4 linked regions of the Homo sapiens genome follow. The protein of the gene in region 3 purifies or fractionates together with the protein of the main gene of each other region. This does not show direct contact. Each region holds a gene or a part of one and is shown on either strand. Other genes may lie near its edges.

What was found.
Region 1: the proteins of TGOLN2 (region 3) and DENND11 purify together in Homo sapiens (affinity purification with mass spectrometry; 4 studies listed by BioGRID and IntAct, with this or other methods). This does not show direct contact.
Region 2: the proteins of TGOLN2 (region 3) and GALNT2 purify together in Homo sapiens (affinity purification with mass spectrometry; 5 studies listed by BioGRID and IntAct, with this or other methods). This does not show direct contact.
Region 4: the proteins of TGOLN2 (region 3) and GOPC purify together in Homo sapiens (affinity purification with mass spectrometry; 4 studies listed by BioGRID and IntAct, with this or other methods). This does not show direct contact.

Annotation. Positions count from the first base shown.
Region 1 is NC_000007.14:141,699,146-141,706,066, forward strand, and holds the start of DENND11 (DENN domain-containing protein 11), read right to left. Parts: upstream 3,022-6,921; 5' UTR 3,009-3,021; coding exon 2,741-3,008; intron 1-2,740.
Region 2 is NC_000001.11:230,062,252-230,070,257, reverse strand, and holds the start of GALNT2 (polypeptide N-acetylgalactosaminyltransferase 2 precursor), read right to left. Parts: upstream 3,021-8,006; 5' UTR 2,978-3,020; coding exon 2,852-2,977; intron 1-2,851. UniProt on the Homo sapiens protein: Catalyzes the initial reaction in O-linked oligosaccharide biosynthesis, the transfer of an N-acetyl-D-galactosamine residue to a serine or threonine residue on the protein receptor.
Region 3 is NC_000002.12:85,317,980-85,325,004, forward strand, and holds the end of TGOLN2 (trans-Golgi network integral membrane protein 2 isoform 1 precursor), read right to left. Parts: intron 7,020-7,025; coding exon 6,936-7,019; intron 4,821-6,935; coding exon of another isoform or gene 4,763-4,820; coding exon 4,757-4,762; coding exon of another isoform or gene 4,726-4,756; 3' UTR 48-4,725; downstream 1-47. UniProt on the Homo sapiens protein: May be involved in regulating membrane traffic to and from trans-Golgi network.
Region 4 is NC_000006.12:117,592,494-117,599,518, forward strand, and holds part of GOPC (Golgi-associated PDZ and coiled-coil motif-containing protein), read right to left. Parts: intron 1-7,025.

The sequences.
Region 1 (6,921 bases), on a different chromosome or scaffold from region 3:
TTTTGGCAACACAGGCGAAGGAGGGGCAAAAGTCTGGGTGGGCCAATATTAAATAGGAACAAATAGCAGATCTGCCTCAGCAGTAAAGGGGGGAAGATGCTGGGCCAGTGATGGTCCAGCTCACTGTGCCACTATGGGCCTCACTCCACCGGAACCATCACACAAGGGGTACATCAGGCACTCTCTGAGGGCCCTGTCCTAGTGCTAACCTTGAGGCCCTCAGAAGCTCAGTAGCATTCATTCACTACATCTCCTACTTTTAAGATATATATAAAATAAAATTATATGGTACAAGGTCTATCAGAGTATTTTTACAGGAAGCAAAGTGCCATTTAGGACTAGGATAGATGACAAAAGAGACAAACACATTTATGGTCAGTAAAGGACTGCTTTCCCCCCACAAAAAAACACAAAAAAAACACAAGTTACAAGTGCTCCCTCTCACACTGCGCTCTCTCTTCCTCCCTCCTTTCTCCTCCATCCCTGGATAAGTAAGGATCAGGTGCCAGGGAGCAGGGGTTCAGGCAGCATAGTATACTAGAAAGACAATGGGACTTACAGTCAAGTATTTATTGGCTACTTAATATTCCCAAATTACCTAACCATCCCTGGTATGTTCCCTCATTTACAAATTGGGTATAAATGATCATCAAATTACAGAGCAGTGATCAGAATAAATCAAACAGCATTATAGTAAAATGCCTGCACAAAATGTCTAAATGTGTTACAATCCCTTCTTTGCACAGTAGCCTTAGTCTGAAAACCATCACTCACACACACACACACACACACACACACTCCGTATACACAAATTCACAAAGCCATGCTCACTGCCTGTGACTGACAAGGAATGGGGGCAGGTACTAGCCCTCTGGCGCTTTTATCAATTGATAGATATCAATTGGCCAATATCAATAATTGATCAATTATCAGTATTATCCACCCTATCTGTCTGTAATTAGTATAAAACTTCTTTTCTCTTTCCCTTCCCTAAGACTCTACCACTGGAGCTACCAATACTAAATCAGACCGTGTGAATGTGCCCTTTCTATTCCTTCTAGTTACTCTGAAATATTTCCCAGGATAAGTCAAATGCTGGTAGCTGTTTACCTGTAAATGATGGGGTACAGTATAAGCAATATGATTAGTTACAAAGTATTGGTTTTTGTCTAGCATTACGGGTAACTTTGGTCAAAAAAGACCAATACTTTTCAAACTACTGGTATCTAGGAATCTCAAATGCGAGTCAACCAGCATGTGTGATGAACACTTAAAAAAAAGAGAAAAGAGCCACTGCATTCCAGCCTAGGCGACAGAGTGAGACACTGTCTGAAAAAAAAAAAAAAGAGAGAGAAAAAAGAATGCATTACATGTAGAAGGAGTCAGCACTACTTCATGAAATGTCTATTTCAGTTACATAAGTACTGTACGTGTATGTGAGCATATTGGTTGTGATGTAAAATTAACTTCACATGATAGATCAGTCAAAAGAGTTTGAAAGCCATGGAATGTGGCAAAGAAACAAGCAGAAGTCACAAAGGCCTGAATTGTCCCCACAAACTCTGTCCCTGCAAATGGAGCTCCACAGTGAATCCCACATTCTTCCTGTGTCCTACAGCTGAGAACCCCAAAATTACCGGCCTGGAACCCATCATCAGCTGCCATACCAGATTCCCCTTCTCCAGATCCTAACCCCTTTTTTTCTCCACTCCATCCCACCTCATCCCAGAAAGCAGCCAATATTTTCCCGCACGAACAGGCACTCCACACTCCAGCAGCTGCCCTGGAGACATTGACAGTCACACCTGGGTTTCCTTAAGCCCTGACACCACGACTCCTGCGATGACACCTCCTTCCCCCAACCCCGAACAGCAGAGCCACTCTCAGAGTCAGAAGTCCCTAGCTGACCCTCCAAGGCTTCCTGGGCGCGCAGGGTCGTTCTTCCACCTTCTGTCCCCCGTGGACTCTCACCTGGAAAACGCACACCCCCCTGCCGGGTGGTTAGGCTAAGATTATGTGGGATAAGACTTTAATTCTCCAAGCATCTCCGAAAGACAGCCTATCCGGGGAGGCTTCTCCTTTAATCAGCCTTCAGCTGAATCCCTCAGCCCCATCCCTTAATGCTCCCGGCGTTAATTCCTCAAAATAATGCAGTCAGAGAAAGTGAACTTGGCCGCTAGGAAAGTTACCCCAGAGGAAGCGACGGGGAGCTAGGGCGAGCGGGGAGCGGGGGACGGGGTGGGGGGCGAGCGGGGAGCGGGGGACGGGGTGGGGGGCGAGCGGGGAGCGGGGGACGGGATGGGGGGCGAGCGGGGAGCTCAGGGCGCTCGCCCGGGGGGTTTCCTCCGCACAACGTGAAAAATCTTCTAGCCCCCAAGAAAAGAAAACAAAACCCAACGTGGCCACAAACCGGATGCCCTGTCACTGAAGTGCGAACACCACTGTGGGGCTGGGACTCAGAGGAGAGGAGGGGAGGGGAGAGGAGGTCGGCGGGGCTGGAACAAAGCCCTCGGGGCCGCTCCGAGAGGCCGCGCGCCAGCACCCAGCTGCGCCCCGAGGGAGAGAGCTGAGGACTGGCCGACCCCCGCCCTTCCCCAAGCCCGGGAGCCCGGGGCCGGCCCTGGTGCGGGGTGCGGGGCCGGGAGGGCAGGTGCGCGCGCAGCGAGCCCCTCCCCCGCGCCCCCAAAGCTCGGGGGCACCCCGACCCTCCCCACGCGCCTGGCCCCGGCGCGGCCCTCACCCGAGCGGGGGTCGAAGGTGACCACGAACACGGCCACCACCTGGTCCTCCTCCACGTCGCCCAGCTCCAGGCGCCCGGGCTGCAGCAGCACCTCCGGGGCGGCCGGCTCCTCGGGCTCCCGCCTCCGGGGCGGCTCCGCGGCCGGCCGGGCGCCCCCGCCGCCGCCCCGGCCCCAGCCTCCCGCCTGCGGCTGCGGGGCCTGCGGCAGGGAGACGGCGGGGCCCTCGGCCCAGCGCAGCAGCGGCGCCGCGTCTCCCTGCTCCACCATGGCTAGGCGAGGCGGAGCCGCGGGCGCGAGGGGCGGGGCGGGCGGGCTGCGGGAACCCCCCTCGCCTGGCCGCGCCAACGCCGCCGCCGCCCGCCGGGTCTGGCGCTGCCCGGGGCCCCGCCGCGGAGGCGCCTTTCCCACGGAGCCAGAGCAGGCGTCCGCGGAGCCGGCTTCGGGAACCGCGAGCCTATTCGGAGGCGCCCGTGTGCACGTCCGTGTGTGGGACGCGTGCGGCCGGAACGTTCATCCTTGCGTCCATACACCTGTGTGCGGGTGGAGGTGCCTTCTCACCTAGGGTTCCGTGGTATAGCTACCACTGTGAGTTTTTATGTCACCATTATTTTTTAAAGTCCGCTGGTCCTGTGGACCGTGACAGATATGTATTACATAATCCTGGATGTGTGGCAGAAGCTGCTTCTAAGCAGAGGAGTGAAGCAGAGGTGCTCTGGCTACCCAGGTGTTTGCAATATACTCATCAATAAACACTGAAAAGGCCATAGGGTTAAAGTTTGGGAATTTTGTTCTTCCTTTTATATTACAAACTGATTAGGATGGAGATTATGAGTTTATTTCCTGGTATATATACAACTTGAGGGTATTAAATTAGGAGGTGCTGGAGCATTTGTGGGACGAGGGATATTCCCTCAGAAGATCAGGAAAAGGAAGTTGCTCAGGGGAGAAAGAGGAAAGTCAGCTCTAAAGCTGATGGCTTTGGAAATGGATTAGGGGTTTTCTGTGAACCCCCATTTTATATTTAAAAATAAATTTTACATGCCTCAATCCTTGAGGTAAATCTAGCAGCTAAGTAACTCTTTAAGAGGAGATGTGTATAAAAATAGGAATAGCTATTAAAATAGAAAGAAGGAGGTGGCAAGAGAAGGAGGTACACAGTTCATCCAGGGTTCAGCAAGGCTCCATGGTTTGCCTGTTCGCAAAAGGACCCAGTAGAGCTATGTGCTGGGTGCTACTCCACGGGATGTTTATGAACCTCCGTGTCCTACACGTCAGCACTGCAATGATAATGTGATTTAACCCCTATCCCTAAGAAGATAATCAATGACTGCCCTAGGCTGCCACTTCTAATCTAAAATCTATGATATAACAATAAAGAATGTACTTATGCAGCATTTTACCCCCAAGAACAGGGTCTACTTTCATTATTTACATATTTAGTTCAGCCTTTCCTGAAAGGTAAAACTTCAGCATAGGAATCTCTTGATTGGATCAGAAGGATGAAGAAGTAGCTGTGGATGTTTGACCAAGTTACTGATGACCTCCAGAGCTCATCCCTTGGAGCACTGACAGCAAATAAGTCAAGACGGAGCACAGTAGAGATCCATCTCTGAGAATGTCTCCTCCATACCTGCTCATTTCTTCCCAGTGAGGCACTGTGTGTGTGTGTGTGTGTGTGTGTATGTATGTATGTGATGTGGGAGAGGCAGAAACAGACATACACACATACATACACACACAGAGACAGACAGAGAGAGAGAGAGATCTTATTTCTGTGGCCGGGGGCGGTGGGGCTGGCCTTGGTGCAGGTCACACAGGTGACCCATTACCTGTTCTAATCTTAGGGACTCCGGGAATGACCACAGCCCAACTGTGACTAACAGAGAAAAGGTCAGACTAGTGGGTCTGTACCATCGTTTTAAAATGTCTGCTCCTTAAAGTATCGGTAGGATATCATCAATCTCTAAATTACTGGGACATCAAATCAGAGATCTATTCCTATTCTAAGTATGCTATGTGTTGTGTGTGTAGACAAGTGGTATGTTTCTACTGTCACAGCTATTTTGATGAATAATCTCTAGTTCTAGCAAATGGGAAACTTTGGCAAGAGAAGCAATTTGTTAAAATCTGTTTGATTTATTCATCAGATAGATTTATAGTAGATTTCAAATTAATAGAATAACCTAGGGGTTTTTATTAATGGCACTAAAGTATCCATGGGTAAAATATGTTGTCACTGATTTGCTTCACAATACCCCAGCACTCACCCTCAATGAAGTTGCAGTTATGAACTAAACAAGACTGTAAAGCCATACATAATTTTTGAAGCTAGGTTATGGATACATAAGGACTCATTATAGTATTTTCTCTATTTTTGGTATGTTTGAACATTTCCATGAGAAAAAGTTAAACAAAAAGGAGGAAAGGGTTAATAACAGACTCCTAGGCTTTAAAGCAGCCTCCAGGCTTTATTTACTTAGCCCGTAATCCTTCCTTGGAATTCTGTTGTGCCGGCAGTGCCACCCATGAGATACAATTTTATGAGCACTTTGAAATGAGAAATGTGATGGGCAAATATCAAGTATTGTTAATGATTTATGTAATTATCATTGGATTCATCGCAGCTGACAAGTGGCTGCTTCTGTACACTCTCTCAGCAGGCAGGGAGGAGATTAGAAGAAGGTCCCCCTTCAAGGTTGCTGGCTTTGCTGACCATCCTTGTCATAGGAACAGAGCTGTGAGGAGTCAGGAGCACTGGAGACCCCTAGTTTCAATGGATTCACATCCACCGCAGCGGCCCCAATCTGGACCTGGTCAGTGTTGCCGCTGCTGATGGATTTGTCCAGGGAGCAGGAGAACATACACTGGTGATTAAAATAATGTTTTCTCTAAGTTACTGCAAACTTTCTCCTGTGTAGTTGAGGCAACACTTCCAGTTGTGGTGAGAGATTGAACAAAAGAAAAAGCATACAATGTTAAAGCTGGCAGGACCTTAAAGACACTGCCTAGCCCTCTCACTCAGCAGTGAGTCGTAGATGATTCCTCCAGATCTTGACGAGGCCCACAGGCCCTTGTTTAAGAACGTCGCTTGCTGCTTTGCTGCTTCTATGGGGCACATTCTGGTGATAAAGGCCAGCTGTTTTTCTCCACCAGCATGGAGTTCTCTCAACTTTGTTTCTGGTTTTTAGAGTCCCTGGCCAATTGTCTGGAGACCCAGAGAGCCACTGTTAGTCTAAGGTCGCTTCATAAATAAGGGTAATCCCGGTCCTGGATTCTGCCAGACTCCTAGAAAGACTGACAGTGAAAGTGTCATTTCTTGCTTGGGAAACCATACTTCACAATGGTTTTCAATAGGGCAGACCCATTAAATACATAAGAATCCAACAACACTCTTTTTTCAGAGTCGGAATGACTCAGTTCTAATTCAGTCTTAAATAAATAATGTGCTGGACCTTTACTTAGGCCTGTTTAAGTGTTTTTTACAATTCTCTCTCCTGACTTGGGGGACAATTAGGCCAGCATGTTCTTCCTTGGAGCGACAAACTCTCAAATAGCTCATTTTCCATGGCCTTAGCTTTACTTTGACAAAGGAACAGTCTAACCAGGAAGGTGAATAAAAGTTTCCACGTCTTGCAAATTTGAATAGATAGATTTTCCTGCTTCTGTTCTTCCCATCAACATTTCATAGGCCTCAGAACCAAGTCTGGTCAGAGTGGAGTCTAGGTGCTTCCTTATCACTCAGCAGTGTGTCTGCAAGGGGAGAACTTCCCTCAAGCACACAGTTGAGGGAACTCAGCCCTGAGATGCAAGGCTGCCCGCTTCTTGCACATCTTACTCCTGGGAACTTCGCTTTCCCCCTGTGCAGCAACTCCTGACACATTAAGAAAAAAATTCAAATTTTTTTTAAAAAGTCAAATATGGAGTATTTTAAACATGATTGAAATATATTAATTTATTTCCCCAAATTCATCCAAAAACAATTTATTGAACACCTACTATATGTTAGGCATTAAGGGGGAAACCCTCCCCTTTTCCTCTTATTGCCACAGATTACATGGGTCCCCCTTTTGACACATCATCTCAACTATCACCTGAAGCTTTATGCTGGGATGGATGCCTGTGGGATTAACATATACTGAAGCAGAGATGAAATTTTTCATAATGGAAAGAGGCTAAAAAT
Region 2 (8,006 bases), on a different chromosome or scaffold from region 3:
ATGGGGGGAAAGGGTATGGACACAAATGTAAATGAAACATAATTTTAAACAATATTTTGAATAAACTGCTTTAACATACATGTCCTGAGCCTGGGTGTTGAGTCCCGAGTTGTGCGGCAGTGCCTGAGATTGGTCTTCAGCACTCCCTCCTGCTTAGTTTACTAAACCTGCAATCTGAGGTGAGCTGGCTCTCTGGGTTTTGCCAAGTGGAGAATAACAGTTCTGTGATGAGTTACTTAACAGGCAGGGCACACAATGACAAGCCTGGGCTGGGCTGCTGAAGCAGCAGAAATCCTAGTTGGACTCCCCTCAGACGATCCCTAAAGCCCAATACTGCAGCCTAGTACCCTATGAAAAACGTCAGGATGTGCAGAAACTGGCTAAATATGGAATAAAAGCCCTGACTTGAACAGTATGAGGCAAGAGAAAAAATATAGGTCCACTTATCTCTAAAAAAACTATAGCTAGCTTTTAAATTCTGCCTTTCTGTGCATGGCCCGCTATCTTTTTTTATGTCCATACTTTACAAGCCAAACAAACCACATTTTTTTTTTGGTATGAGAATGAAATAAATTTAGAGACACTTCTAGTGTCTAAATCCATGGAAACAATTGGGGAAGAAAGAAGACTACACGATTTTCCTATACATCAGGCATTCGTGACAGCAGGGCTCTATTTACCTCCTTCAGAAACCATCTTAAGGCTTCTCTTTAACCCTGGGTCCACCACACGAAGTTAATGAGTCTTCCACTGCAATTTCAAAAGCTATTGCATTTACACACCTCTTCCTCAACCGACAAATCACTAAAGCATCCTAAGGGGTAGCATTAAATTTTATGGTTCGTTGACAGAAAGAATAGAATCCCAAATCACCAATCCATGTGTAATTAATTGTTCATTTCCCCCACTTTTTCTACCTGGTCTCCGTACCTGTCTATATTGCCACCAGGAATTCTTTAAAAAAAACAAAACAAAACAAAACAAAACAAAAAAAAACAAACTAAGAATCACACACTTCAGGAGTGTCTGAAGACTTCTGCATGGAAGACCCCTCACACCATCCAGGAACTGAAGCCCACCAGAGTGAGGAATCAGCCTCCGGGAGGCGAACGAGCACGCTTGCTCTTTCTAATCACGTGTACTAATGAAAGTGGCAGACTAAGGAAAGAGAAACGCCAAGGGTGGCTTATGTGTTTGGTTTTCTTTGCATGAAAGGCAGAAAGCTTTGCCAGGTCTCACCAGCACACCAGGCTATGCAGAGTGGCCAAGGCACAGTTTACCGGGAAGCAAAGTTTTAAAAATCATTCCAGTTTTACACGATTATATCTCTGAATGGACTGCACGGCTTTTGCTGCCTGCATGCTCTTTGCTGTTCAAGAATAAACCAAGTCTTCGCGTACATATACTACCTATACCATTTTTTACAAAAACAACGCTAAGAGTACAATGTCAGCTCAGAAGCTAGGCCGATTCAGCACGTGGAAAGAGGGCTTTATTTCTGCCCTTCTAGATAAAACAAATCCACGTAATTTACCAGAAACCACATAAGGCACCCATTCCACCTAACATCTTCGGCTATGAATGAATGAATGAAGCAAAGAAAAAACCTCTGAAGCAGCCAAACCCCGGCGTGGACATTTAGGGGTCTGACTTCAGAACTGAAGTCTGTTCATCTAGTTAGTTCCCTCTGGCTTGTTTCAGGATACCACTCTCTTGTTCCAACCCAACCACCCGTAGTCCATCTCCATTAACTCAGAATTTTCTGGGTTTGCGGTGACACTAAATGTCACAGTAACGAGGGTTACAGGAATTCGGAAAAGATAACGCTGCTTTCAAAGCCGAGGAGCCAGTAAAACACTACAAACGTCCCCTGCCGGCATGCTCCAGCACACAGCCCGACGCCCTGCTCTCCCGGCCGGCGCTCGGCCGCAGGACCGCGCTGTCCCGGCTCCTCTCGGCGCTCACCATCCTCCCGAATGCCCAGGGCCCGGCCGTCCGGAGCGGCGGCACGAGGACGCGGAACCGCAGAGCGGCTCACACGGTCCCCACAGCCAGATCACTCGGCCCCTGGAGCATGTTAAAAACACAGCCACAGAAGAGGGATTCTCCCTGAAGCGGGGAGTGGGGATGGAAAATGCAAGCGCAGGAGGCCACGTCCGGCTCGCGCGGGAGGGCCGGGGGCCGGGTTGGGCAGAGGGTAACGCTGGGGCCGCAAGGGAACGGCCGGGACTGGCCTCGCTCGGGGCGCAGGGGCGCACTGGCCCCTGGCTCGCACGGGCCCTGGGGCTTTACTTGGCACGGGAGCGGCCGCCCCTGCCCCCCAAAGGTAAAGGGCAAAGAAGGTGGCAGAAACACGGAACCCACGCCCCGCGGAGTGACAGGGGGAAAGGGACGAGGATTTGCAGCCGCTGGTATCAAAGGGCTGAAAAGAAACTTGGACTCCTCTCTCCTGCTGTACATGACGCGTTGGAAAAGCGGTCGCCTCTCTCTCCTCTCCTCCCCACCCCCTTTGTGTTTCCCAACACCCCCATCCCTAAACTTCCAACCGCAGGGGATGGGGCTCCCGGCGGCCGGACAAGACTCGAATTACGACGAGCAGAGAGAGGGGCGACGTCCACGAGAGGGGGCAGAGAAAGGCTGCGGGGGCCGCCCTTTCGGAGCCCGGCGTGCGCAGAGGGGCCGGGTGCACCCCTGCCCTGGGCACTCGGCGCGGAGGCCCGGGACGAGGGCGGGCGACGCGAGCGGAGGTCCGGGCGGAGGAGCGCAGGGGCGGCGCGGAGAGGGCAGGGGACAGGGGCGCAGGGTGGGGGGTGGGCGCAGGGGCCCGGCCGCGGCAGGGCGCTCCACTCACCTTCCTGCCGGCGCCGCCGCCCGCGCCCCCGGCCAGCGCAGAGCCGCCCCCCGAGTACATGTAGTAGGCGATGCCCAGCACCCACAGGAAGGCGAAGCAGAGCAGCATCCGCGAGCGCCGCCGCATTCTCCCAACTCGGCCGCCGGCGGGGCCGCCGCTGCTCGCGAGTGCTGCCTGGGCCGGCCGCGGGCGCGGTGGGGGCCGGGGGAGGAGCGGAGGAAGGGGAAGGGCGCGGCGGCGGCTCCTCCTCCCGCGCGGTGCTACTGCTCGGCGGCGGCGCGCACTCGGCGCCCGAGCTCCGCCCCGGGCCGGCGGCGCCGCGCGGCACCAGAGCAGGAAGCAGCGGCCTCGGAGGCGGCGAGGGGGGTCAGGGAGCAAAGGGCGACCAATCGGCGGCGGCTGCGGGGGCCGGGGCGCGGGCCGCGGGAGGGGACTGCCGCGTCTCCATGGCTGCAGCACGCCGGGCTCCGCCGTGAGGGCCTGGGCGCCGCCCCGCCCCCGGCCGCCCGCCCCTCAGCGTGCTCCCCCCGCCGGCCGCCCCCTCCCCCGTGAGTGACAGGTGGCTGCCCCGGGACCCGACTGGAGCGCGCGCACACGTGGGCAAAGAGCCTTGCTCACGCACACGGGGCCTCTCGATTACGGGGGCGGTAGTGGCCTCGGTGCTTCCTGCCCAGACTGTCACCTCTTCAGCCTTGGTCTTTGGGGCCACCTCAGACCCTTAACGGGCTTGCTCTTATTGGCCAACTGACCTGAGTTTTTGGTGCAAACCGCCCGCTTGAACCCGACTTTGCTGCTGCTTGCTGCAGTTTTCTCACTAATCTTGCAGCAAAACATTCCTGACCCGCTGGTATCGATTTTATTTATCTATATAGGCAGATGTGGAGGTTTTGAGTTGGTAGGAACTGAGAAGGTAATTTTCAAAAGAACATTTTTCTGTGGGTGACAGAGCTATCAATGGTAGAGTTGTTCTTTTCAATAAACACAAAATGAGGAAGAAGGAAAGCAATAATATATTGTTTAAAATCTTTTCTTTCTCATTCGTTGCGTTCTTTAAAAAGCACATTAAGCATCTTTAACGATACAAGAAAACGATCTGTCTTGTAACATAATCTATGTAACCTTGGTGATGCCCTTGCAACACGCAAAGCTTCCAGTGTTCCTAAGAAAGACAGAAATTTTACTTAGAACTTGATATATTAAATGTTTTCAGGAGCTTCTCGGTCAGAGGATAATGGCAGCTGCCTGATATAAGTCCGTACCCATATCCTCAACGAAACAAAAACAAGCCTTCAGCATTACTTAGAGAGAATGCCATGAACTGAACATTAAATTACTTAAGTAGAAGAAAGAAAAGATACCAAATTCCAACTGAGCTCCCTCCACTATTGCCAAGGACTTAAGTGAAGTACAGGGTTGTCACCTCTTTATAAATAGAAAGTCCAACACCAAGAACTAAAAACTGAACAGAGGTCAGGTGCCTTATTGATCAAGGGAAGAGATTTGAAAGAAAATGGGACAAGAGGTGAGAGGCTTGAAGGAGCCTTGTTTCTGGGAAAAAGTCAGATAAATACGAAAAGAAGATAATGTCCTTCAGAGGCCTGACAATGAAGGGAAAGAAGGAAGTCAGAAGGGAAAATTACAAATCCTGCAGAAATGAAAGAGAAGACAGCCAGTCCCCTCCCCAAACACCAACATTATCTATTAAAAACTGCATTTCAGTACACAGATAAAAGAAAACACTCTTGAACCGGGAACCCTGCCTCAAAATGCCTAGTAACAGAAAAACATCAAATCAACTGCATTTAAAGATTCTGCAAAAAGAAAACAGAAATCACATTTCTGATGATAAAAAATAAATCATAACATTTTCGCTGATGAAAACCCCCACAATAAAAACCATGAAGCATAAGAAAATTGTAATACCACATGTCAAACTGAACAAAGTGTCACGTATTTGTATACACATACACACACACACACATATCTAGGATAAGAAATTTCAAGAACTGAAGACAGACTAGACAAAAATTAGGAAGAAATGCAACAAGGGTTGAGCAAATTCAAGAAGGAAATTGAAAGTAATGACAAAAACTATCCCAGAAACAAAGAATAATTACAAGGTGTCCAAGGGAAAATATATTCAAATGAAAATATGTAAAAGGACACTGAAGAATGGCAAGAAAACAATCAAGAAATTGAAAATAATATAAAGATAGAAGTAAAAAGGTTCAGAGAGAAGAGGTTAAAATAAAAGCCAGGAAAGGAAGACCAAAATACATGTTAAGTGGAGTCCCTAAAGTACAAACATTAAACAATAAAACCTAATTAATATTAAAACTATAACCCCAGAAAATAATCCAGGAATAAGGGAAAATTTAAATGTACATGTCAAAAGTGACTTCCATGTACCTTGGGAAATGATCTGGAATTATCAACTCCTAAATATATTTTAGTAAAACGATTAGATTTTAAAGGCAAAAAAGATCAAATTGCTTATAGAGATAAAAATTTATGCTGGCATCAGACTTCTGAACAGCAACATGCAAAGCCAGGCAACAGTGGAGCAGCATTAACAAGGAACAAAAGTGCCAGGCAGGCTGGGCATAGTGGCTCATGCCTGTAATCCCAGCACTTTGGGAGGCCAGAGTGGGTGGATCACCTGAGGTCAGGAGTTCAAGACCAGCCTGGCCAAAGTGGTGAAACCCCATCACTAAAAAAAATATGAAACTTAGCCGGCAGGTGCCTGTAATCGCAGCTACTCGAGAGGCTGAGGTGGAAGAATCATTTGAACCCGGGAGGCAGAGGTTGCAGTGAGCTGAGATCATGCCATTGCACTCCAGCCTGGGTGACAGAGCGAGACTCCATGACACACACACAAAAAAGTACCAGGCAGTGATTTTTATACCCAGCCCTCAAGTGTCAAGGTTGTAGGCAAACAGATATGACCTGAATGCAAAAATTCAGAGAACGTGACTCACATGGGCCTTTCATGAGGAATCTTAGAGAATGAGCTTCCTCCAACCAAGAGACAGCTGAGGAAGCCAGCAGAGTGACTAATGGAGAGCATTTTGTATATTCAGAAGGTGAAAGACTAGTGTATATACATTATACTTTCTGATAAACTTAGAACAGGTGCAACTAAAGACAACTGGAGGAGAAGGGGAAGAGCGAAGGGAAAATAGAATAATATCATTGTCTGCAATATCAGTAGCAGGTAGTAGTGAAAGGATACCATATAAAACAGACAGACCAGATGTTAAAAGGTTAGAAACAAAATATAGGAATTAAGGGTAATATATTAAAAATATAAATAAAAATCACTACAACAAAATATATGTATTCCCAAATATTGGAAACCCTATTCCAAAACCCCAAAAGTTCTAAAAATAGCAAAGAATACATACCAAATAATGAAAGAAACACAGTAAGTGTGGCACAGTGATGCAGTAGTTATAATAGGAAACAATATGACACAGCTGAGACCAACCCACATCAGATATAACAATTTATAAGTGGGCTCAGTTCACCCTTTAAAATAAAAGATTTTCAAATGTAGGCATAACGGAAACCCCAACTCTGAAAAAGCAGGTGCTGTGATTCTGATATCAAACAAAACAGAGTAGGCCAAAAAGCATTAAATGAGATGAAGAGGGACAATTTATAGCCCAAAACTTCCCTTCCTAAACACTTATCAATTGTATATCATTAGGATTTGATCTGCAAAGTAAAATCATTATTAGTTTGATGGAATAAGCGATGTATGATAGAGATTAAACTTTAGACAATGTTAGAGGTAGAAGAAAAAAGGTTATGGAAGTCTTTCCATTGTACATGGGGCAGGTCTGAAGTCACTGTAGTTTCTAGACCTGGGAATCAGAAGAATAGCTAGATGTGACATGGGGCATTTCAAAGACAAAGTCAAAACTGCAAGGACAAAATGTACCTCATGAGAACAACTAGAATTCATGAGGACAAACTGTAATGTACCTCCAGTGTTGATTATGGAAATAAAAAACAAAACACAACAAAAACCCACAGTGAGATACCACTTCATATCCATTAGGATAGCTATTATATAAAATTTTTTTTTTTTTTTTTGGTGGACACTTGCTCTGTCGCCGAGGCTAAAGTGCAGTGGCACAATCTCGGCTCACTGCAACCTCCACCTCCTGGGGTCAAGCCATTCTCCTGCCTCAGACTCCTAAGCAGCTGGGCCTACAGGCATGTACCACCATGCCCTGCTAATTTTTGTATTTCTAGTAGAGACAGGGTTTCACCATATTGGCCAGGCTGGTCGCAAACTCCTGACCTCATGATCCACCTGCCTCAGCCTCCCAAAGTGCTGGGATTACAGGTGTGAGCCACCGCGCCCAGCCTATAAAACATTTTTAAAATAAATAAATAAATAAATAACAAGTGTTGGTGAGGATGTAGAGAAATTGGAACCCTTACGCACTGCTGTTGAAAATGGTATAGTGGTTCCTCAAAAAATTAAATTTAGAACTACTATATGATCCAGCAATTCCATTTCTGGTTGTATACATAAAGGAATTGAAAGCAGCGACTCAAACGGATATTTGTATATCCACATTCATAGCAGTGTTATTTACAGTGGCCAAAGGGTGGGACAACACAAATATCTATCAACAGATAAATGGACAAGCAGAATGTGGTATATCCATGCAATGGAATATTATTCAGCCCTAAAAAAGAAGAAAATTCTAACACATACCAGAACATGGATGAACGTTGAGGACAATATGCTAGATGAAATGAGCGAGACACAAAAAGACAAATACCAAATGATTTCACTTATATGAGTTTCCTACAGTAACCAAAATCATAGAGGCAAAAAGTAAAATGGCAGTCACCAGGGGCTTGAGGAAGAGAGGAATTAGGAGTTCCCATTATTATTTATGAGTTCGGAGTTTCGGTTTGAGATGATAACATTCTGGAGATGGATGGTAAATGTACTTAATGGCACAGAATTATACACTTAAAATGGTTATGATGGTAAATTTAATGTGATGTATATTTCATCACAATTTGAAAAAACTACAAATGACAAGTTGGGAGAAATTATTTCCACAACATTATAGATAAAAAGGTAATATCTCTGACATATAAAGTACTTAACATTAAGGAAAAACCCCAA
Region 3 (7,025 bases):
CTCAAAAATAAAATAAAATAAATAAATAAATAAATGTATTAAATCCATTGCTTTAACATTTTGAAATTTATTTTGGTTTCTGTTCAACAAAACCAAACCACATTGGGATGGCATTTACAGAAGCTCAGAAAAACATTATGCACTGAAAAATACTTCTCATTAGACCACAACAAGCTTTAAAAAAATAAAATTAAGTAATTATAGTTAAGTTACAAAAAGCTGAAAGTATAAAACATTGTGGAAACAGTGACCATCTATTAACTGGGAAAACACAAAAGAAGAGAAACAATTTCAACCATTAATCATTTATCAAACATGAAGTCTGGTGCATTAAAGGAATATCTATCAGAGGGTGAGGGGCTGGCTTACTGGCAGTTTGACATACTATACAGCTCAGACCCAAACCCTTCACAGAGAGACTCTAAGTGTACATCTGACTTGCAGAACTAGACGAGTTGAGTCACTGTTAGCTCTGGATATACCGTTAAATTAAACCTCAAAATCTCTCCCCAGGACTCTTGCTCAAGCAAGTCACGCCAAATCCAACCTTCCTAACAGGGGTTTTCAGAAAATGGCCTGCAGAAGCACAGGATCTGGTGCCTCACAGTTTCCTCCATGCTGCAATGCTCTAGTTCTCATCACGCCCATAGCATCTGGCATCAGGTTACCCTGTACAGTCAACGGCCATAGAAGTCGCCAGCAGGGAAATTCCAGAGGTTTAGAATTCTATCAGCACATGTGTCACTGGAAGCCATCATGGGAGTACTATGTCAGAGCGTATGTAACTAGCTGTCAGGTCTTTCCCCGTTGCCTCAGCCTTTCTACACAGACTGGCCTTCAACTTCCCCTGAGTCCAGAAGTAGACTCTTTCAGCAACTCTATTCAGGAATCTGCAGCAGGAAAACTGCTTCCTCTATTAACATCTATGACTGAAGCACAGATGTGTCTAATAGAAATCACCCTTCACCCAAAAGCTGGGCGCAGAAAGGGAAGCCCTTAGCTGACTATAGGAGGTGCCTCTTGTGGCTCCACGTGCTTCTTACACACCACCCCCCAGCTTGAGCGATGCCTCAGCCAGCTCACCCTCATCCACACAATCGCTAGAAAACATGCTTCAAATATTCTATCTTTGAAAAGACACCATGCAGAAAATAAGCTTTCCTCTGATGTGCGGTATTTTCTTCAATGCTATTTCTTTCTTTTTTTTTTTTTTTTTTGAGACGGAGTCTCGCTCTATTGGCAGGTTGGAGTTCAGTGGCACGATCTCGGCTCACTGCAACCTCCGCCTCCCGGATTCAAGCAATTCTCCTGCCTCAGCCTATCTAGTAGCTGGGACTACAGGTGCACGTCACCATGCCCGGCTAATTTTTGTATTTTTATTAGAGACGGGGTTTCACCATGTTGGCCAGGATGGTCTCGATCTCTTGACCTCGTGATCCCCCCGCCTCGGCCTCCCAAAGCGCTGGGATTACAGGGGGAGCCACCGCGCCCGGCCTTTCTTCAGTGCAATTTCTAAAGAGAAACTTAAATCCTGTTGTATTCTTTCAACACAAGCAATGATACTTCTCAGAGTCTGCTCAAAAGCTCAGCTCTGTGGACTCCGTGACAAAATGTACGCGTCCACTGCCGACCCTCTTGGTTTCTGAAACCAACCTTTCTTCCTGCTCTCCTCTTTAAGAGCAAACCCCAACATGTATAAGGTCACAGCAAGTGGTAGCCAGGAAAAGCTGTGGGACCCCTCATTTGAGTCACATCCATATGGCATGGAGAAAGAAAACCTCTCTGCCAGAAGGAACTGAACTCTGGAAGTCCTAAGGAAGGTCACCATGATCAGCAGATAGGAAAGCATTGCCAAGGGCTGTCCCTCAAGAGCTTAGTTTTCTTAGGGAGACCAGAAAGACATCAGATCCTGACTGCCCTGTTTTGCTCAAGTTCTGAAATGAGTGGCATGATGAAGAGCTGGTGGAGCTGAGGGAAAGAGTCAACCATGTGGGGTGGGGTAGTGAGGAAGGTGTATGAGGAAACAAACTGGGCCCTGACGAAACAGGCGGATTGGGGAAGGAGAAAGAAGGAAGGGAGAGAAACCTAACCAAAGAAACATGGGAAGCTGGAAAGTCGAGGGCACAGCCGGAATAAAGGCACAGATGGGCACCCCACAGGAGGGGCCTTGGCCAGGTTGGGATGCAGAGAAAAACAGGCAGGAGGGTGTCAATCTATAGCATCCTGAACCCCAAAAGGTCTGTAACTGGATTCTCTAAGCCTTGAGAAGTTCACACCAAAGCTTCAGACCAGGGAAAATATTTTGGAAAGATCAGTCTTTCCAAGAGTGAGCTCCTTTCCAAGAAGCTGGACAGGAAACCCAATAAATGTGGATCTGAAAAAACAAAATCCAAGAGAGAAGCAAAATGGGCTGGGGGTGTGCAATAAGAGAAGCAAGGAAAATGGAAAGACTGTAGCTGAGGATCTTTTATTAAAAAAAAATGGATGGGACTTTGGTGATGAGAGAGAAAAAGGGCAAAAGTCTGCAGTTAGGAATTTAGGTGACCGAAGACTGTCCTAGACAGTTGGGAGGGACAGGCTGATGGACAGAAGAGAGAAATTCCTTTCAATGACAACCAAGCTGAACTATTCGATACCAGCAGAACTGGGTTCTTTAGGGATTAAGCCAAGACAAAGACTTGGGAATCACTCACTCCGAGGATGAAGAATGGGTTAATGGCTGAGGAGACAGTCAAAGGAATAGAGAGGCCTGGCTTTGAGGGCCTCTTCACCACCAGCACAAGATAAGGCAAAGGACCATTTGTCAGAGACACCAAGAAAGGGGAATTTCCATTTGGATGGTCAATAGTGTCCAGTTCTGCCAAGGACAAGACTAAGCTTTGAGAAAAAGCCATGGATTTGGTGATTGGATAACTGGTAACCTTTAGAAAAGTTTAGTTGACAGACAGAGACCGAAGTGAGTTAGTAAAAGTCATGAAGAGAATGAATGGCAACTTAAGGGAAGCAACATACTGGAGAAGTTGAGCAGCGGGATGAATAACAAATAGGACAGATGGGAACAGAAAAATCTGGGTGCATACGAAGGTGGATGGAAAGGAGCTGGTACAGATGGGCACAACCAGAAAACATGAGGAGGGGAAAGGAAGGGAAAAGGAAGGCAGGCAGGGAGAGAGACGTGAAATAGCCACAGTCTTAGGGGATGCTAGAGAAGCCTAGAAGATTCCTCAGGTTGGTGCAAAGTATTATAAGACTAACGCATCAGTACAGAGAATGACCCAAGAAGGGTAGGAGTTCATTCCTTACCTTCATAAAGTAGGCTATCCGCCAAGAATGAAAATGTCAACTCAAAGCTATGGGCTGTTTTAAGCAAGGTGGAAGATAATATAAGAAGCATGGTCCTTTCTTCAGACTTACTGCCTTGACAGCACAGAATTCATCTTATTTCCCTCATCTCCCAAGTTATTTGTATTTCCCTGAGATCAGCTCAGAAACAACTCTCTTTAGGCTCTCTACAATGCGGTAGAGCATGATTAGAAAAGATAAACCTTCAAACAATAGTGTTGTCCAAGACACTACCCTCACTTATCCCAGGGGAACCCACGGAATTTCTTCATTTGTATTAACTCCTGACATGGCATGGAAGAAGAATTTTTATCAAATACCCTTGGCATCTTATATCAGATTAAAGGACCATTAAATACACTGAGGTAAAATTGGCAGAGAGTATAGTTTCTATTAATAAATCTAAGTCTATTTTGTCTGTTTTAGGCAACAAAGGCAAAATGGACTTTGTGGGAAATGTATCTCATAAAAGCCCTTTGGAAAAACTGCAGACCAAAACCAAAACCCTCCTTCATGTTTTCTCGCATGAAACATAAACTTGCCCTATTTCAAAAAGTTCCTACTGAGTATGATTGTGTGAAAGATCACACTACTTCAAATCATATTTATTTTAAAAATCTGTGATGGGACAGTGGCCTCACTGCCAGGAAGCCCAAGTTCTGTTTTATGCTCGGTACAACTAAGTGGAAGTTGATTCACTTTGTCTCAAGCTACATAAAATAATCAGAAAATCAAGAAGATCTCATGCTAGACAGGTTAGACTTGCACCCAAAAAAGCATCTTTTTTTTTAACCTGCTGTTTTGGTTTGCTGCTGAAGTCTTTGAAGAGAATTATGTATTCAAAGTAGCTCTTTGCCCATTGGCATTTCCCCATCTTCTATGTCTTCTGTAGGGCACATCCCCCCCAAAGTAAGAGGCCTTAGTAGAAAAGCACTTCCACCTGCAGTTTTCCCCTAGGTCTGCAGAGAGAAACAGTGCAGAGTGCAATGCCACAGTCAAGGACCAACTTTCCTACAGAGCCCGGGCCCCAGGGAGGGTGGTCAGCAGCGCAGCCTGCCCAGGCTGGGATCTCCCTTTGGTCATAGCCGTGTTTCCATATACCCCTCCACTCACCCTCAGAGGAGGAACGGATGGAAGCCACCAGCATAAATAAAGGGAACACAGAAGAACAATGTCACCAAAGTGCAGGTGCAAAGCCCAAAGCAGCCCCCTACCTCTGCCAGCCCAGACCCGCCACTAAATTCTAGAGGAGGGTGTCTCTCAGGTCACAGTACTTTTTTCTTCATTTCTTTTGATTTAGAAACAAATCAGCAGGGAGGACAAGGTTCTCAAGGACAAAAAAATCAAAGCTGAAACGAGAGCAGCACAATCCATTGGTGACGTTCATCTTTTTCCAGAGGAATATACCATTCTGTTAGGACTTAGGGGAAAAAAGATCTTTTAGGAGGTGCAGGGAAAACATTCAGAATTAAGACATACTGACCCACCACCACAGAAACAGCAATTAATTAAAATAGCACACAAAATGATTTTTAAAGTTTGAAATGAAACCTAACACTAGAAAGATATACACTTGATGGAGAGAGAGGAATCCTGGCTTCTGCTTCATACTGTTCTGTACTGTTGTGAATTATTTACATGTGTTTTTTGTTGGTGGTGGTTTTCTTCTTTTTTGAGACGGAGTCTTGCTCTGTTGCCCAGGCTGGAGTGCAGTGGCATGATCTTGGCTCACTGCAACCTCTGCCTCCGAAGTTCAAGCGATTCTCCCACCTCGGCTTCCTCAGTAGTAGCTGGGATTACCATGCCCAGCTAATTTTTGTATTTTTAGTAGAGATGGTATTTCACCATGTTGGCCAGACTGATCTAGAACTCCTGACCTCAGGTGATCTGCCTCCCAAACTGTTGGGATTACAGGCGTGAACCACTATGCCCAGCCACATGTGTATTTTTTTAAAAATCATAAGCCATGTGTGGTGGCTCACGCCTGTAATCCCAGCACTCTGGGAGGCTGAGGTGGGTGGATCATTTGAGGTCAGCAGTTCAAGACCAGCCTGGCCAAAAGGGTGAAACCCCATCTCTACTAAAAATCTAAAAATTAGCTGGGCGTGGTGGTGGGCGCCTGTAATCCCACCTACTCGGGAGGCTGAAGAGGGAGAACTGCTTGAACCCGGGTGGTGGAGGTTGCAGTGAGCCAAGATTGTGCCACTGCACTCCAGCCTGGACGACACAGCAAGACTCCGTCTCAAAAACAAACAAACAAAAATCATAAAAGGGGGAAAACCCTTAAAGTCAATTATCTGAAAAGGCAGTAGTCCAGAGCTAAATTGTAAAGCTAGCCTACTGGACTAGTTAGCAAAGATATTCTGAGCTCAGTGGCTCGTTCTGTAGCTAATATTGAGTTGTGCAAGAGAATCGTGTTCCCTGCAGGAAGTCTGGGAACAATTCATAGTTGGGCCACCAATGGTTCTTTGCCAATGTCCTGGCTGTTGCTATGCTGAAAGCAGAAGGAAGGGTGCATGCTGGTAGCAACGCAGTGAGAGTACAGTCTTCCTGCTTAGACAGGTTGTCTTTAGAGAGACCCTTGCTTAGCTCTGCTGCCATGGGGTGGAAGGAGGGCTTATCTGTCTGACAGAGGAATGGATTGGCTGTACTCAGGAACTCCAGCCTACGGTGCTTAAGCCAGGCTGATGTGGGGAGTTGGAGGCCTATGTGCTTCCAGGCTCGTGTTTCCAGGGAGCACAGTCTAGCACTTTACCACACAAAGTGTGGATCCAGTGGCATTTGGTTTCACCTGGGAACTTCCTAAGAATGTAGACACAGGCCAGGCACGGTGGCTTATGCCTGTAATCTCAGCACTTTGGGAGGTCGAGGCGGGCGGATCACCTGAGGTTGGGAGTTCGAGACCAGCCTGACCAACATGGAGAAACCCATCTCTACTAAAAATACAAAATTAGCTGGACGTGGTGGTGGCGCCTGTAATCCTAGCTACTCGGGAGGCTGAGGCAGAAGAATCGCTTGAACCCAGGCAGCAGAGGTTGTAGTGAGCCGAGATTGCACCATTGTACTCCAGCCTGGGCAACAAGAGCAAAACTCCATCTCCAAAAAAAAAAAAAAGAATGTAGAAATATAGGCTCCACCCCACATCTAATGAATCAGATAATGCTTTTTATCAAAATTCCCCAAGGTGATTCAAATGCCTATTAAAGTTTATGGAGCGCTGGCAGAATGCAGAAAGCTCAGGACTGGGAGACTAGGGAGTTGCTATCAGGTCCTGAGTTTGCCACTAACTTGCAGTAGAAACTTAGCGGAAAAAAAAAAAAAAGAGTGTTTCTGCGTGGGCCTATTTCCTCATCTGTGAAGGGAGGTAGCTGCTGTAGAGTATTCCAAGGTCTCTGCTAGCTCTAACGTCACAGATATGTGTATCTAGATGTTTCTAGTTTGTTGTCTAAAAAGGGCGAATGCAACAGCAACAGCAACCGCATCCCCAGAATCAGCCACTGCTGCTTCATGGCAAATGCAAGCCCACTACTGGGTCCATCTGACGTTGCCTATCCCTCCTATCCCTCCCATGGACCTGGCTCCTCCTTCCTTACCTTCTGGTCCAAACGTTGGTAGTCACTGGCCTTTGGCCGCCGGGTGACTTTAGATCTTTTTCCTTCCAGGACAAAAGCAATGATCTGAGG
Region 4 (7,025 bases), on a different chromosome or scaffold from region 3:
CTCTCCCAGCTTTTGGTGCTGTTGGCAATCACTGGCATCCCTTGGCTTGTAGATACATCACTCCAATCTCTGCTTCTATCATCACATAGCCTTCTTCTCTGTGTCTGTGTGTGGCCTTTTCTGTCTCCTATCAGCACACTTTCATTGGATTTAGGGCCCCCTCTAATCCACTATAATCTTACCTCCATCTTTACATAATTACACCTGCAAAGACCCTCTTTCTAAATAAGGTCACATTCTGAGGTTTTGGGGGTGGATATGAATTTTGGAGGGATACGATTCAACCCACTACAGATACTGATCAATCATTTCCCAAACAGAAATGCAGTGTTATCCTTAACCCTTTCTCTTATCTCCTGCATCTACATAATTATCAAATCCTGTCAATTCTCCTTCCTTAGTCTTCAATTTATCTCCTTTTCATCAGCCCCATTACCACTTTCACTTCAATAACACACTTGTCTGTATAACAAACTCCTTTGCTATAACATTGAATAAACCTAGTTATTACTCTCATTACTGTGCCTGTACCTAAACAGATATGCATTGCTAGAGAAAATCACACAACAGTACAGACCGGTTGCACCATAATTTATGATAACTAACCCCAAGCCATTCCTCAACAATGCCTGGCAGTCCTGTTTCTCTGGCCAATTGGCTCTCCCACTCTTCCATTACTATCTCAAACCTCTTCTACTAGCCTCATGCTCTTACTCTCACCTACTTTTAGCAACTGACGTGGGCTCCTATTTTACAGAAAAAAAAAAGCCATCAGACAGAAACTTCCACAACCTCCTACTGTCTGCTCCCATTCTCTCCCTCTTCTAAGTAGCTGTTATTACAAAATCTTACTAATATTAACTACCCCACTCTTTTTCTATATTTGGCTTTTCTCTCAAGTAGATGCTTCTCACAGACTTATGTTTTATTTGTTTTTATTTAAAAACAAAATGAAAACAAAACCTCCCTTGTACCCTACAATCTCACTTCTTGCTATCTATTCAGCCACACTCACTCTTTCTGTCTGCTTCTCTCTCCACCTCCTCCATCCCCCATCAGACATAATGTGTTTGTGCAGAGACTGATTTCTCTAGCTCCGTAGCCTCAGGCCTCTTACTTAATCCCTGTAAAGTTGGAGTAACTATACTAATAAACCTGTTTCCAGGACTGTTGTGAGAATTGGATGAATCAGTCTATGTAAAAGACTCAGAAGAGAGGTTGGCCCATGGTAACTGATCAATAAAGTTGGCAATATTGTTATTGCTAATAATATAACACATTCATCTATCTATTCAGGCAACCAGCTGCACAAGATTGTCACTTGGATTTATCCTGAACTCCCTCATCCCTCTGTTCCAATCCATCTCTAGGTTTTTTTTATTTTTACCTCTCCAGTTTCTCTTGTTCTGAATACCTTCTCCTACCTCTATTATCTTACTCCACACTATCATAATCTCACATAAACAGAAACCTTCTAAACAATTTTCTGCATTCATTCATGTCATTCTCTGCAATTTTCTCCATACCATAGTCAGAGTGAACTATTCTAACTTCATATCTGAGGCTACGAACTGGTTTAAAAGACTTCCCACGATTATGATAAAGCCCCAAATATTTTTGCATGGCCATAAAGTCATGTAGAAATAGTCCCTCTCTGTCTGTTCAAACTTATCTTGTGCCTTGCTTCTTTTGCCCTCTTCTCTTGTTACACATACCAACTATCTCTCGAATCTTCAAATGCACTATGCGCTTGCCCACCACAGGTGCTTTTCACTTCCCATTCCCTCTACGGCAATGTTGAATGGCATTCCTATTTCTCTTAGCTTAATTCATTCCTATTTACACATAATTCCTTTATGTCTTAGCTCAATAACTTCCTCAGGGAAGCCTTCTCTGACATCCCAAAATAGGGTCTCATTTACTCTTATGTACCTTTCATAGTATTCATCAAAGTTGCAATTTCTCATTTACATGATTATTCTCCCAACAAATTCCTCCAATATAATCCAAACTCCATAAAAGCCATGACTACATCCCTTTTTTGCTCTCCATTGTATCCTAAGTGCCCAATACAGCATCTGGCACATAATTCGTGTTCATAAGTGCGTACTGGATCAATATTAAACTTAAGCTTCAATGTTGCAAAACAGCCTATTTAAAAACAGGACAGATTTAAAGCAGCAAAGGGACAAGCATATCACCAGTTCATTATCAATGTGGCTCTAGATCAAAGTTAAAAGTTTCTCTACTGTTGGCTATGAATAATAAATCACTTCAAAGAGATACTAACAGAGCAATTGCTGAGGGAAAGGAGGATGTGAAAGAAGGTGTATTGTTGTGCTGTTACTTTAAAAAAGGAGTAACAGGCAGAACACTCTTTCAAGGCAGAGGTGAATTTTTTAAAGTATTGGTTCACAATCTTTATTCTATTCCAACACACCTACTACTGCTAGTATTACTATTCCTACTGTAAACCTAAAAGGAAAAGGCTGAGGCACAAAATATACTTTAGTTTACCTGAGCCAAAATGAGGACAGCTACTCAACACATATTTCCCAGATGCCTGGGGAGTGCTCTGGCACCTGAGTTACAAGCAGATTTTAAAGGGAAAAAGGAACAAGGCAGATACAAAGTTGCTTGATAAGAATTCTCATTGGTTTACAATCACTGATTAGTGACTGGCTATTCATTGTTGCACTATAAGGTATGACTTATGGTGTCCAGCATATGGTATTTTATGGCTACTTGGCGTCAGTTAGTCTAAATCCTACATAGAAGGTGGCTTCCAGAGATAACTGCTTAGGTCAAAAGGGAGTGCCATAACTGCGGTTTCATTCCAATGCCTCTCTAGGCCTCACAATGGAAAGGAACTCAGTTGTGTTTTGTTTTGTTTGTTTGGGTTTTGTTTTGTTTTTTCAATAGGTTTCTGGGGAACAGGTGGGGTTTGGTTATGTGAATAAGTTATTTAGTGGTGATTTCTGAGATTCTGGTGCACCCATCACCTGAGCAGTGTACACTGTATCCAATGTGTCATCTTTTATCCCTCATCCCCTTCCCACCCTTTACTCCAGATCCCCAAAGTCCATTGTATCATTCATATGCCTTTGCATCCTCCTAGCTTAGCTCCCATGTATGAGTGAGAACATACATTTTGTTTTCCACTCCTGAGTTACTTCATTTAGATAATGGTCTCCAATCAATTCCACCCAGGTTGCTGCAAGTGCCACTATTTCATTCCTTTTTATGGCTGAGTAATATTCCAGGTGTCTGTATATATACACACCACATTTTTTTAATCCACTTATTGATTGATGGGTATTTGGGCTGGTTCCATATTTTTGCAATTATGAGTTGTGCTAGTATAAACATGTTTGCAAGTATCTTTTTCATATAATGACTTCTTTTCCTCTGGGTAAATACCCAGGAGTGGGGTTGCTGGATCAAATGGTAGATCTACTTTTAGTTCTTTGAGGAATCTCCACACTGTTTTTCATAGTGGTTGGTGGTTTACATTCCCACCAACAGTGTAAAAGTGTTCCCTTTTCACCACATCCGTGCCAACATCTATTTTTTTTTATTTTTTTGATTATAGCCATTCTTGCAGGAGTAAGGTAGTATTGCATTGTGGTTTTGATTTGCATTCCTCTGATCATTAGTGTTGTTGAGCATTTTTTCATGTTTGTTGGCCATTTGTGTATCTTCTTTAGAGAATTATCTATTCATGTCCCTAGCCCTCTTTTTGATGGGATTGTTTGTTTTTTTCTTGATTTGTTTTGAGTTCCTTGTAGAGTCTGGATATTAGTCCTTTGTCGGATGTACAGTTGTGAAGATTTTCTCCCACTCTGTGGGTTGTCTGTTTACTCTGATTATTTCTTTTGCTGTGCACAAAGTTTTTAGTTTAATTAAGTCCCATCTATTTATCTTTGTTTTTGTTGTGTTTGCTTTTGGGTTCTTAGTCATGAAGTCTTTGCCTAAGCCAATATCTAAAAGGGTTTTTCCAATGTTATCTTCTAGAATTTTTATGGTTTCAGGTCTTAGATTTAAGTCTTTGATCCATCTTGAGTTGATTTTTATATACGGTAAGAGAGGAGGATCCAGTTTCATTTTTCTACATGTGGCTTGCCAATTGTCCCAGCACCATTTGTTGAATAGGGTGTCCTTTCCTCACTTTATGTTTTTGTTTGCTTTGTCAAAGATCAGTTGACTGTAAGTATTTGGCTTTATTTCTGGGTTCTCTATTCTGTTGCATTTGTCTATATGTCTGTTTTTATACCAGTATCATGCTGTTTTGGTGACTTTGGCCTTATAGTATAAAGTCAGGTAACCTAATGCCTCCAGGTTTGTTCTTTTTGCTTAGTCTTGCTTTGGCTATGTGGGCTTTTTTTGGTTCCATATGAATTTTAGGATTGTTTTTTCTAGTTCTGTGAAGAATGATGGTGGTATTTTGATGGGAATTGCATTGCATTTGTAGATTGCTTTTGGTGGTATGGTCATTTTCACAATATTGATTCTACCCATTCATGAGCATGGGATGTGTTTCCATTTGTTTGTATCACCTATGATTTCTTTCAGCAGTGTTTTATAGTTTTCTTTGTATAGGTCTTTCATCTCCTTGGTTAAGTATATTCCAAAATATTTTAATTTTTTTGCAAGTCTTATAAAAGTGGCTGATTCTTGATTTGATTCTCAGTTTGGTCACTGTTGGTATATAGGAGGGCTACTCACTTGTGTACATTAATTTTGTATCCTGAAATTTTGCTGAATTCATTTACCAGTTCTAGGAGCTTTATGGATGAATCCTTAGGGCTTTGTAGGTATACTATCATGTCATCAGCAAACAGCAACAGTCTGACTTCCTCTTTAACCATTTGGATGTCCTTTATTTCTTTCTCTTGTCTGATTGCTCTGGCTAGGACTTCTAGTACTACATTGAATAGAAGTGGTGAAGGGGGGCACATTCTTCAGATAAAAAGTTTCTCTTTTTTCTTCCACAGTGCCACTACTATTCCAATCAATGCCTATGATTCTAGCATAGCCATGATCAAGTGGCTCATGACAGCAAAAACTCACAAGCATGTGGAAAGTGTGAGAGATGTGAGCAATTTGAAATGGCACCACCTCAAAATACACTGATATTCTCTGCTATTCCATTCTCCTCAGATATGACTCTTCCCAAATATTGCTATGGCAAAAAGCAGTCACATGGATATCATTTGTATTTAATTTTAAGATGTAATCTATGTTCTCAAAAAACTAAAAATAGAACATATACACTAGGGATATATGCCCCCTAAAAAGGAAATCAGTATCTTGAACAATATGTGCACTCCCATGTTTATTGCAACACTATTCACAATAGCCAAGATACGGAAGCAATCTATATTTCCACAACAGATGAAAAGATTAAAAAAAAAAAAGTGGTATATATACACAAAGGAATACTACTTAGCCATAAAAAAGAATGAAATCCTGCATTGAAGACCACATGGATGAGCTTGGAGGACATTAAGTAAAAATAAGCAAGGCACAGAAAGATACATAATGCATGTTCTCACTCAAATGTAGAAGCTAAAAAAATTGATTTACCAGGCATGGTGGCCCATACCTGTAATACCAGCATTTCGAGAGGTTGAGGCAGGAGGATCTCTTGAGCCCATGAGTTCAAGACCAGCCTAAGCAACATAGTAAAACCCCATCTCTACTAAAAAAAAAAAAAAATAAAATAGAAAAATTAGCTGAGTATAGTAGCTCATGCCTGTAGTCCAAGCTACTTGGGAGGCTGAAGCAGAGGGATCAACTGAGCTGGGAGTTGGAGGCCACAGTGAGCTATGATTGCACCACTGCACTCCAGCCTGGGTAACAGAGTGAGGCCCTGTCTCAAAAAAAGAAAAAAAAAAGTTGACCTCATAGAAGTAGAGAATACAACAGTGGTTACTGTTAAGTTGGGAAGGGTGAGGCGGGTAGGAAGATGTTGGTTAACACAGCGGTCACCAATGTTTTTGGCATCAGGGACTGGTTTTGTGGAAGACAATTTTTCCACAGGACAGCGTGGGGATGGTTTCAACAAAAGACATTAGACTCTCACAAGAAGCTGGCAACCCAGATACCTCGCATGTGCAGTTCACAACAGGAACAGGATTTGTGCTACTATGAGAATCTATATGAGAATCTAGTGCCACCACTGATTTGACAGGAGCCAGAGGTCAGGCTGTAATGCTCTCTTGCCCACTGCTCACCTCCTGCTGTTCAGCCAGTTCCTAAGAAGCCACGGACCAGTACTGGTCCACAGCCCGGGGTAACAAAATTATGGCTAAATAAGAGGAAAAAGTTCTAGTATTCTATAGCACCATAAGATGATTACAGTTAATAGTAGCTTAATGTATATTTTCAAACAGCTAGAAGAGCAGGTTTTGAATTGTTTCTAACATGAATAATGTTTGAGGTGACAGATATGCTAATTACCCTAATTTCATCATTATTATGTGTATCCAAATACCACACTGTGCCCCCTAAAAAGATGCGACTATTATGTCAATTAAAAATAAAAAAGAATAGCCCTAATAGCCTATTCAAGTAAAAAAGTAACCTATGATTTTTTTGCAGCAAAATTTAATATTTTAATAATAAATATAGTGTTTAATGTTAACTACATTATAAATTACCCAAATTGGAGGTATCTGTTTCTTCATTATATAAAAATATTTTATTACAGTAATATGATTAAAGGTATTAACCTCTGAAACCACTGAATGTCACGTTTGTCATATTAAACCATAAGTGGTTTCAAATATGTCTTAATGTCCATATAATTAAAACAATAGAACAAATTCAATCCTTTTCCTAAAAAGTAAAAAAGGGCAAGAAAATATGGAAATTGTTTCAAGCTTTCAAACAATATATGGAGCAACCACTGAAATTCTGTAGATGGAACAGCAGCAAGTCTACTTTGAAAGGCACTGCTGACAATGAACTTCTTTCCACAGCAATACACAATTGATTCCATAAAAACGGCAGAAGCTGCTAAA